Linked DNA regions of Homo sapiens: region 1 is linked to region 2. The links come from fine-mapping of genetic effects on gene expression. A gene starts in region 2. The other region holds a variant in brackets. All regions are shown on one strand. Distances are from middle to middle. Region 1 overlaps KIF25 (kinesin family member 25). Region 2 holds the start of KIF25 (kinesin family member 25).

Region 1 (4,377 bases), 46 kb after region 2:
CTGGGCTGCAACTCTCAAACTTGAGCTGCGTCCAATTCCCTGCAGCAGGTGGTGGGAACTAATAGCAGACACCACCCATGCTCAGGTTCAGCAGGGCTGGGACTGGACCCAGAGTGTGCGTTTCTGCAAGGATGCGGCTCCGGGGACCACACCTGGAGAGCCACGGGTCTGGGGCCGGAACATGAGACTGTAGTCCCATCAAAACCTGGTCTCAGTGGGTTGACACTGGAAAGGCCATTTCTCACTCATATTGAAGGCCAGTGTGGCTGAACATTCCCCATCCTTCTTGCCACCGTGGCACTTGAAACATTTGGCCTCCAAGGTTGCTCAGGCAAGGGAAGGAGAGGTGACGGGGAGGTGCTGACAATAGCCCCTGGCCAGCCCAGAGTGGGCCACAGCTGGGCACACGGCCTTGTACCGCAGGGGCTGGAAAGGCACAGGCGTGTGATGTTTAGGGAACACCAACAATCTCTACCAAAAACGCTCCCGATACAGGGGCGGTGTGGCTGCCAGTGGTGGTGGGAATAAGACCGGATTTCATGTCCTTTAAAAAAAATTGTGTATACTTTCTATGTTTTGCACAGTGAATAAATGTTATTTTGCTTTTTTAAAAAACCTAAGAAGTTTGTTTAGGAATAACACACTACAAAGACATTTGCATTAAAATTAAGAGCCCTTTTGTTAGGATTTGTGTGGAAGATTATCGAACAGATTGTAGAATTTATTTCTAAAAGGGCTCATAGATTTTCTGAGTGGGATTTTAATTAACATGATTACCAAGTCTTCCTAAGAAGCATTATTTGATTTCCTCTGGGCCAATTAGGCATTAGTTCAACCTTCCACAGTGAAGAAAGCTGCTTTCTAACTTGTGTTTTCCCCCAGAGAAGCCACTATCCCCTGGACCTCTGCGGAAATCCCACTTCTTACTGGGTGGGAGGTGTGGGCAGGAGGGTGCAGTTCAGAAGCTTCTCGGCTCTGACTGAGGCAAAGCACAGCCTCATGGCTTCATGCAACTGTTTTCCTCCTCGTCGCTCCTTGGTCCCTTGCAGCAGACCAAGCCTGCAGTGCCACCCTCCCCAGGGAGCAAACAGAGGCAGGAAGGGCAGGAAGGAGCCGCAGAGCTTCTCAAGGGGCCTTGGCTCCACAGCTGGTTCCTGGGAACCCCGCAGGGCATGCGGAGCAGGTGCAGGCTCGACTACAGCTCGTGGACTCGGCCGGCAGCGAGTGCGTTGGTGAGCAGGGGCAGGCATTTCCCTGGGGGGTGGGTGCTGCAGAAGCCTATGATCTGATGGAGCTGGATGTGCAACCAGGCAGCCCGGGAAGCTCTGGGCGAGCCAGGCATTTCCCCCTCCACAGGTGAGTTCCAAATCCCGTTACATTCTCAGGGATTGGTTCTCTTACCCCGGCAACCCGAGAGTCGTGTTCCTCACACGGGCCCTCTGGGAACAGAAAACCTGAGTTCCCAGCAGGAGCTCGCTTTGAGCTGTGAGCAGAGCCATGAAAGACACTCACTCTCATGCCTGTCCCGTCCATGGCCTCCCCTCTACCTGCCTGAGAGCCGCTCCTCCCAAGGAGCCGGTTTTGCTTTTCCTGCCTCCTTTCTTGGTGCAAACGGTGATGGTGCGTGGCGGTCCTGTCCAGGTGTGTCTGGAGTGACCGGGTTGGCCCTGAGGGAGATGGCGTGCATCAGCCGCAGCCTTGCGGCCCTGGCAGGCGTCCTGGGGGCTTTGTTGGAGCACCGTGGCCATGCCCCGTACCGGAACAGCAGGCTCACCCACCTCCTTCAGGACTGCCTCGGTAACCGTTTTCCCCAAAATGCCCCAGGATGGGGGACCACGTACCCCAGGACATGTGCACACACTTCTGGCCTGCACGTCCTCGAGGGCCACCCATGCACCCCCTGCACCTCCTGTGTCCTCGCTGTGGCTAGCTGGCACTCCCACGGCACGGTGGTCATTCTCCTGCGCCGTCTCACCTTGGCCTGATTG[T/C]GTGCTTGTTCGGTCTGTGTGTGACTTGCCTCCTGGTTGGGGCTCAGTTTCTCAAGGGTGGCAGCCCTGGCCTTTCTCTTCACCAGGGGTCCGCCAGAGCAGCTGAGGGCTCTCTAGGCTGCTGCTGCATGTGTGGCCTGGGTCCCTCCGGCTGTGTAGACCTGCTTAGGCCCCAAGTTCCTTGGGTCTTTTGGGGGCAGGTGCCAGAAGCCTGGACGCAACAGATTAAGCACCAGTGCCAGGTGGGGCACAGGCGGCCCCTGTGTGGAGTCATCCAGCTGTGGCTGGATCTGGGCTTTGCGGTTTTTGGGGAGCTCAGTTAGTGCCCCCTCCCCCGACTCAGACTCCAGACTGGTTGAAAGGGAGGACCCGAGGAAGCATTGCGGCTCTTCCTGACTCAGGGTGCAGGCAGAGTCCCCCAGAGGTGGCCCTGGGCCCTGTAGGCCGTGTCCTGAGAAACGGCCACTGCAGGACGGCAGGGGCACATGGCCACCACAGTCGGGGGGCTCCTCCTTCCTGGGAGGGCCACCCTGGGAGGTGGTGGAGGGGCCGCTGGTGCTCGGGACTCGGGGAGGCTGGAATGTTCCAGACACTCTCCCTGTCTCTCATTGTGGGGTATTTCCCCCTCTCATGGCAAATTGGCTTCCTCCACACGGTGAATAACAGGGCTGTTCACAGGAGCATATTTTTGGATTCTGCCTTTAAGAGAGAGACCACCTGGTACTCTTGGATTCCAAAGTTCGCAGCCCCAACAGAGAGACAGGGCGACCTGGGTCAGGGGCACAGCCCACCCGTGATCTCAGGGGCGGCACCGTGGGGCACACAGTACCTGAGAGCCAGCAGGTCCCTCATGGAGCCCTGGCCTTGGCCTCTGGGGTCTGCACTTTTCCTCCCCCTTAGCTCTCCCTTCCTTCTCCACTGTTTTTGGTTTTCATCTGTAATTCTTAACCCTCGTTACGGGTCCTGAAAAACAGGAAGAGACAGCATTCCTCAGGAGGAGAAGTCCTGGGCACACGGCCCCTGCCCCAGGGGGGCCTGAGGGAGCCACAGGGCCATGGGCCGTGAGCAGCAGGTGTGGGCATGAGGGAGATCTAGAAAGAACAGCCCCAGGGGGCTGAGCGTCCCTCAGGGTCATGTGCAGACTCAACCTAGGGCTGACTTCATACCTCCCAATTCCCGGGACACAGGAGTGTGAGTAGAAGGCCTGCAGCTTCCCCAGGTGAGGGGCGCTAGTGACCGGCTGCTGACCCTCCCGGACCCAGGTGAGGGGTGCTAGTGACCGGCTGCTGACCCTTCCAGAGGGTGAGGGGTGCTAGTGACCGGCTGCTGACCCTCCCGGAGGGTGAGGGGTGCTAGTGACCGGCTGCTGACCCTCCCGGACCCAGGTGAGGGATGCTAGTGACCGGCTGCTGACCCTCCCGGAGGGTGAGGGGTGCTAGTGACCGGCTGCTGACCCTCCCGGACCCAGGTGAGGGACGCTAGTGACCGGCTGCTGACCCTCCCGGACCCGGGTGAGGGGTGCTAGTGACCGGCTGCTGACCCTCCGGGACCTGGGTGAGGGGTGCTAGTGACCGGCTGCTGACCCTCCCGGACCCAGGTGAGGGACGCTAGTGACTGGCTGCTGACCCTCCCTGACCGGGGTGAGGGGTGCTAGTGACCGGCTGCTGACCCTCCCGGAGGGTGAGGGGTGCTAGTGACCGGCTGCTGACCCTCCCGGACCCGGGTGAGGGGCGCTAGTGACCGGCTGCTGACCCTCCTGGACCCCCGTCCCAGGAACCTGCCAGACGTGGCCACTTTCCCGCTGGGGCGCCGGGCGGCCCTCTCTGCAGCCGCCCATCTCGGGCCCTGGTTGCTGGCATGTTGGCACTTTCAGATGCTGCTCTTCTTTCCAGCTTGCATGTTGTTTTTCTATTTTAAAGGAGGCGATGCGAAGTTACTGGTGATTCTCTGCATTTCTCCCAGCCAGAGGCACCTGGCACAGACGTTGCAGGGCCTGGGTTTCGGGATCCGAGCTCGGCAAGTCCAGCGAGGCCCTGCCCGAAAGAAGCCGCCCAGCTCCCAAACGGAGGGGAAGAGGAGGCCGGATTGAATGCATTAACAAGTTTTTCTCCTAAAACTGTGTTTCTTGTCCTTGCTTTATAATGCATATGTGCTTAGAAATAAACAGGTTTCACGTGGACTCAATAAACCTGGCTTTATTCCAAAGCACCCTCATGAATGTGGATGGGACCTCCAACTCCTGCCAGACCATCAGGCAGGGCAGGCTTCACAGAGGAGCTCCTTGCAGTGCGGCGGCCACCAGGTGTCACAGCAGGCACTCGCTGTCCTCATCAGACTCTCCCCAGAGGCCACCCTGGGCCCTGAAGGCCCTGCCCCGGGAAACTCGGGA
Region 2 (4,377 bases):
TGGATTCAAGCTATTCTCCCACCTCAGCCTCCCGAGTAGCTGGGATTATAGGCGCCTGCCACCACGCCTGGCTAATTTTGTATTTTTAGTAGAGATGGGGTTTTACCATGTTGGCCAGGCTGGTCTCGAACTCCTGACCTCGGGTGATCTGCCCGCCTCAGCCTCCCAAAGTGCTGGGATTACAGGCACGAGCCACCACAGCCGGCAACGCCTGTGTTCTTATAAGCCATGTGCTCCAGGGAAAGGGACAATCATGTTATTTTGTGAAAAGCAGTGTACTTAAGCTTTGAAAAGGTGAAACTCAAAGGGAGAAGCAGGGAGCCGCCAAGGCTCTCCCGCAGAGGGAATGCTGACGTGTGAGGAGGCAGGGCCTGCTGAGGCCCTGCCTGTGGGAGCCACGGTGCAGTCCTGCCACACAGAGGGGTCCCCAGGCGGCTTATTTGTGCCCAGGCGTTAGGCTCAGGGGCTCGGGGCCTCCTTACCTGGCTTCCCTGGGGGCGCGACTTCTCCCCTCGAGTTCCATGCTCCTCAAAGATGAGCCTCAGCCACCTCAGGTGCCCAGGCAGCTCCTTTCAGCCGTGCTGACAAGAGGGATAGTGGGGACAGGCTGGTGGCTGGGGCCGGACACACTCAAGGCTCAGATGACCAAGTGACTGGGAGGGTCTCTCTCTTGCTGTGGGGGACCCTTCCCGCTTTCTTACGCCCACATTCAGTCTGGACCCGGTAACGGGTGTTTCTTTCAGAAAGGGAGCGTGCGCAGTTCTGCAAGTCCAGCTTGGTTTCAGGCCTCATGAGAGCTGCATCTGCGCTGAGGGGTCCTTGTCCCTGCAGGTCCTCGGGCCTGGGGTAGAAAGCCCCAGGCTGGGCTGCATCCTTTGGCTAAGTGACATGTGGAGGGGTCCCTGGCTATCATGACGCGTACAGCCGCGAGGCGTCCTCTGCAGCACGACACCGAGCTCCATGTCACACTCACGCTGCCTCCACGGCAATGGCCAGTCTGGGGATTGGGGTGTCCACGCTCGTCCAAGGCCCCCACGCGATGCCCACTCATCGCCACATCACCTGGCACCATCCTGGTAGGACAGAGGCGGGAGTAGAGGCCCAGGCCACTGTAACAATCCACAGCAGCAGAGCTGGGCCCCAGCATCTCCTTCCCTGCCCCACTCCCCCCTCACCAAGGGCTCCCAGGTGCTTTAGGAGCAGAGACCTCCTTGGCTGCCATGCAGACGATGGAGCAGCATTCACGGGCTGATGGCATTTGAGGCTGATGACGGACGGGGTGACTGTGGGGCCAGGTCCCCCAGGCGAGCTCTGTGAGTCCTTGGTCGTGGTGGAGACAGCGCAGCCTGGGTCCAAAGCAGTGAGGAGCACAGGCCACAGCACGCAGCCGGCCCTGGAGGACTCCATTATTTTTAAAAATGTCTCCCATACTTAGAGAAAGGAATTTGACCTGCTGGGCCCCATGGATGTCCTCTCCGGTAAAATGCCTCCGTCCCTTTGTCCTTTCAGCATGCCAGTCAAAGGTGGCGCACCTGGAGCGGGCCTTGCAGGACGTCAGTGCGCGTCACCAGCTGGAGAGGCAGAGAAGGAAGGTCCCGCACAACAGCCTGGTGGTGGGTGTGGGCGTCAGGGGAGACCTGGGGCGGCCCCGGGGAGAGGCCCACGCAGAACGTGCAGAAGCCTCCTCGCCGGAGGGACAGCGGGAGGGACAGCGGGGGGACAACAGGGGGGACAGCGGGGGGGGGACAGCGGGGGTGTGACAGCGGGGGGGACAGCGGGGGGGGACAGCAGGGGTGGACAGAGAGGTGGACAGCAAGGGGGACAGCGGGGCGGCCTGGCCGGAGGGCAGAGGGGCAGAGCTGCGGGGGCTGCGACCTGCGTCCTCTTCACCCAGGAGGCGATGGCAGCTGGAGGACGGGTGAGGGCGCCGCAGGCTGATTTAGGCTTTCGGGGTCACTCTGGCTGCTCGGTCGGGAGGCCACGACGGGGAGCAAAGGGGATGGCTGCAGTGTCACGGGGGCTGGTGGCCTGGGCCACATTGGTGGCGATGCAGGAAGTGGGACCGGCTGCTGTGAGGCACAAGGAAAGAGCTGTAGCGGGCAGTTGGGGGCGGGGGAATCTGCAGAGATGGGGGCGGGGGAATCTGCAGAGATGGGGGCGGGGGAATCTGCAGAGATGGGGGGCGGGGGAATCTGCAGAGATGGGGGGTCGGGGGAATCTGCAGAGATGGGGGGCGGGGGAATCTGCAGAGATGGGGGGTCGGGGGAATCTGCAGAGGTGGGGGCGGGGGAATCTGCAGAGATGGGGGCGGGGGAATCTGCAGAGATGGGGGCGGGGGAATCTGCAGAGATGGGGGGCGGGGGAATCTGCAGAGATGGGGGGCGGGGGAATCTGCAGAGATGGGGGGCGGGGGAATCTGCAGAGATGGGGGGTCGGGGGAATCTGCAGAGATGGGGGGCGGGGGAATCTGCAGAGATGGGGGGCGGGGGAATCTGCAGAGATGGGGACTTGCGCGGGAAAAGCAAGGATTTTGCTGTAACTGGAGATGCCGGTGGAGACTGCCCCTGCCCCTGCCCCTGCCCCTTCCTCACCAGCACCTTCCACCCACGTCTCTCACTGCCCATTAACAAGACCCAGAGGCTCTCGTGCTTTCTTGGTCGAAGGTATGAGACCTGAGATCCCATGAAATTTAATGTAAAGTCTCAGGGTTTGATTTTGCAACACGAGGATGCCAAGGTGGATGATTGAGTGGGTGACCCTCGCTTCTGTGAGGTTTGATTTTGATGGTTGCACTTTGGCCAGTTTCTCCGAATTCCACCTGCCCGAGGCCCACGAAGCCAGTGTTCCTGCGAAGCTTCTCTTCCCTGGCCATGCCGAGAGGTTCTCCAGCTGTTAGATGTGTCAAAGAATAATTCTCATTTTAAGCATCTACTTATGTAGTTCAGTGCTCCAAACATTGATATAAGAGAACATTTATTGAGTGCTTCCTGTGTACCAAGTACTTTTGAAACCATTTGGTGTATTTTCTTATTTAATCTTCACAATAGCACCACCTCTCTGGGTTGCTATAAAGACAAAGGGAGATATCAGTGAAGCACCTGGCACTTCAGAAAGTCTCACTACGCTGCAGCTTTTTTTTTTTTTAATCTGGAGCATGAAAAAGATAATATGAACCTTCCTAAGATGGAGTCAAGTCCCACAAGGAAGAATTGGTTGTGGAAGTTTCTGAGTGTTCCACCTCAAGCCTGGTCTCCTGGTCTAGCTGAGGAGCGTGCAGTGCGCGGCCCATGGAGAATATGCAGGCAGAGGCTGATCCCAGCTTCTGTGGGTTCATAGAGACCAGACGGAGGCTGTAAATCATTGGCCTATGACACCCACTTGGTTTTCAAAATGTAGAAGGAGCTGCTCAGCATGACAGGGTGGATAAACTTGCTGTGGATCCAAGACAAGATTTCAGAATGGATTTGGCAAGTTCTGAGCACATACGGAGAAGATGTGTTGCTCACTGGAAACCAGTGGAGTTTATGAGAATAAAAAGCTTCTAATTTCCTTCCAGTCATTAAATCAAGGAAATATGACAGATACTGAATTTCCAAAATCCCCTCTAAAATGCCTAAAATGTCGAGCCCAGGATGCCATTCAAAGGGATTTTCCTTGGTACTTATTACCAAGGGATACCCCTTTGCCAAGTGAACACATTTGTGAAGTATGAATCCAGAAGTTTAAAATAACTGTTCATGGCCGGGCACGGTGGCTCATGCCTATAATCCCAGAACTTTGGGAGGCCGAGGCGGGCGCATTACCTGAGGTCAGGAGTTCGAGACCAGCTTGGCCAACATGGTAAAAACCCTTCTGTACTAAAAATACAAAAATTAGCTGGGCGTGGTGGTGGGCACCTGTCATCCCAGCTACTCTGGGGGCTGAGGCAGGAGAATCACTTGAACCTGGGAGGCGGAGGTCGCAGTGAGCTGAGATTGCATCACTGCACTCCAGCCTGGGCGACAGAGCAAGACTCTGGCTCAAAAAATAAATAAATAAAATAACTGTTCACTACCCTGCAGGGGTCTTTCGAAGTGGAGACAGGTGCTGCAGATCTCACGGCCGCGTCTCAGGAGCTGGTGCCCGGTGCACGTTCAGTGGGGGATGCTCCGCAGTGCAGGCTCGCGCCCGGGTTGACACGCAGACCTCTTGATCATTGCAGGAGCTGAAACGAAATATCAGAGTTCACTGTCGGATTCGTCCTTTGTTGCCTTTTGATAGTGAATCCGACGATCCAGTTTTGCAGAGCAGGTAACCTGTGTTTGCACGGTGTGTGTATGTCTGTGTGCTCAGGGAAAAGACAGAGGAGTGGCACAATTTTAAATGCCGTCTACTGTC

Evidence for each region. PIP is the estimated chance that this variant, and not a neighbour inherited with it, causes the effect.
Region 1: its variant is the best candidate, but not a certain one, in a credible set for the expression of KIF25 in vagina (GTEx, PIP 0.74).

The regions. Positions count from the first base shown.
Region 1 is chr6:168,040,920-168,045,296 of GRCh38, forward strand. KIF25 (kinesin family member 25) reads left to right here. Exons shown (of 13, transcript NM_030615.4): 11 at 1,050-1,232; 12 at 1,642-1,797; 13 at 3,908-4,172. The coding sequence ends at 4,077. It overlaps LOC105378135 (a long non-coding RNA gene), which reads right to left. Exons shown (of 3, transcript XR_943283.2): 3 at 4,275-4,377. Among named protein-coding and RNA genes, the nearest start is that of FRMD1, 36 kb to the right of the region's middle. The variant T/C (reference allele first, on the strand shown) is at 1,989.
Region 2 is chr6:167,995,031-167,999,407 of GRCh38, forward strand. It overlaps KIF25 (kinesin family member 25), which reads left to right and starts at 2,641. Exons shown (of 13, transcript NM_030615.4): 1 at 2,641-3,840; 2 at 4,062-4,290. KIF25-AS1 (KIF25 antisense RNA 1) reads right to left here and starts at 2,047. Exons shown (of 4, transcript NR_103750.1): 1 at 1,876-2,047; 2 at 1,208-1,571; 3 at 483-1,073.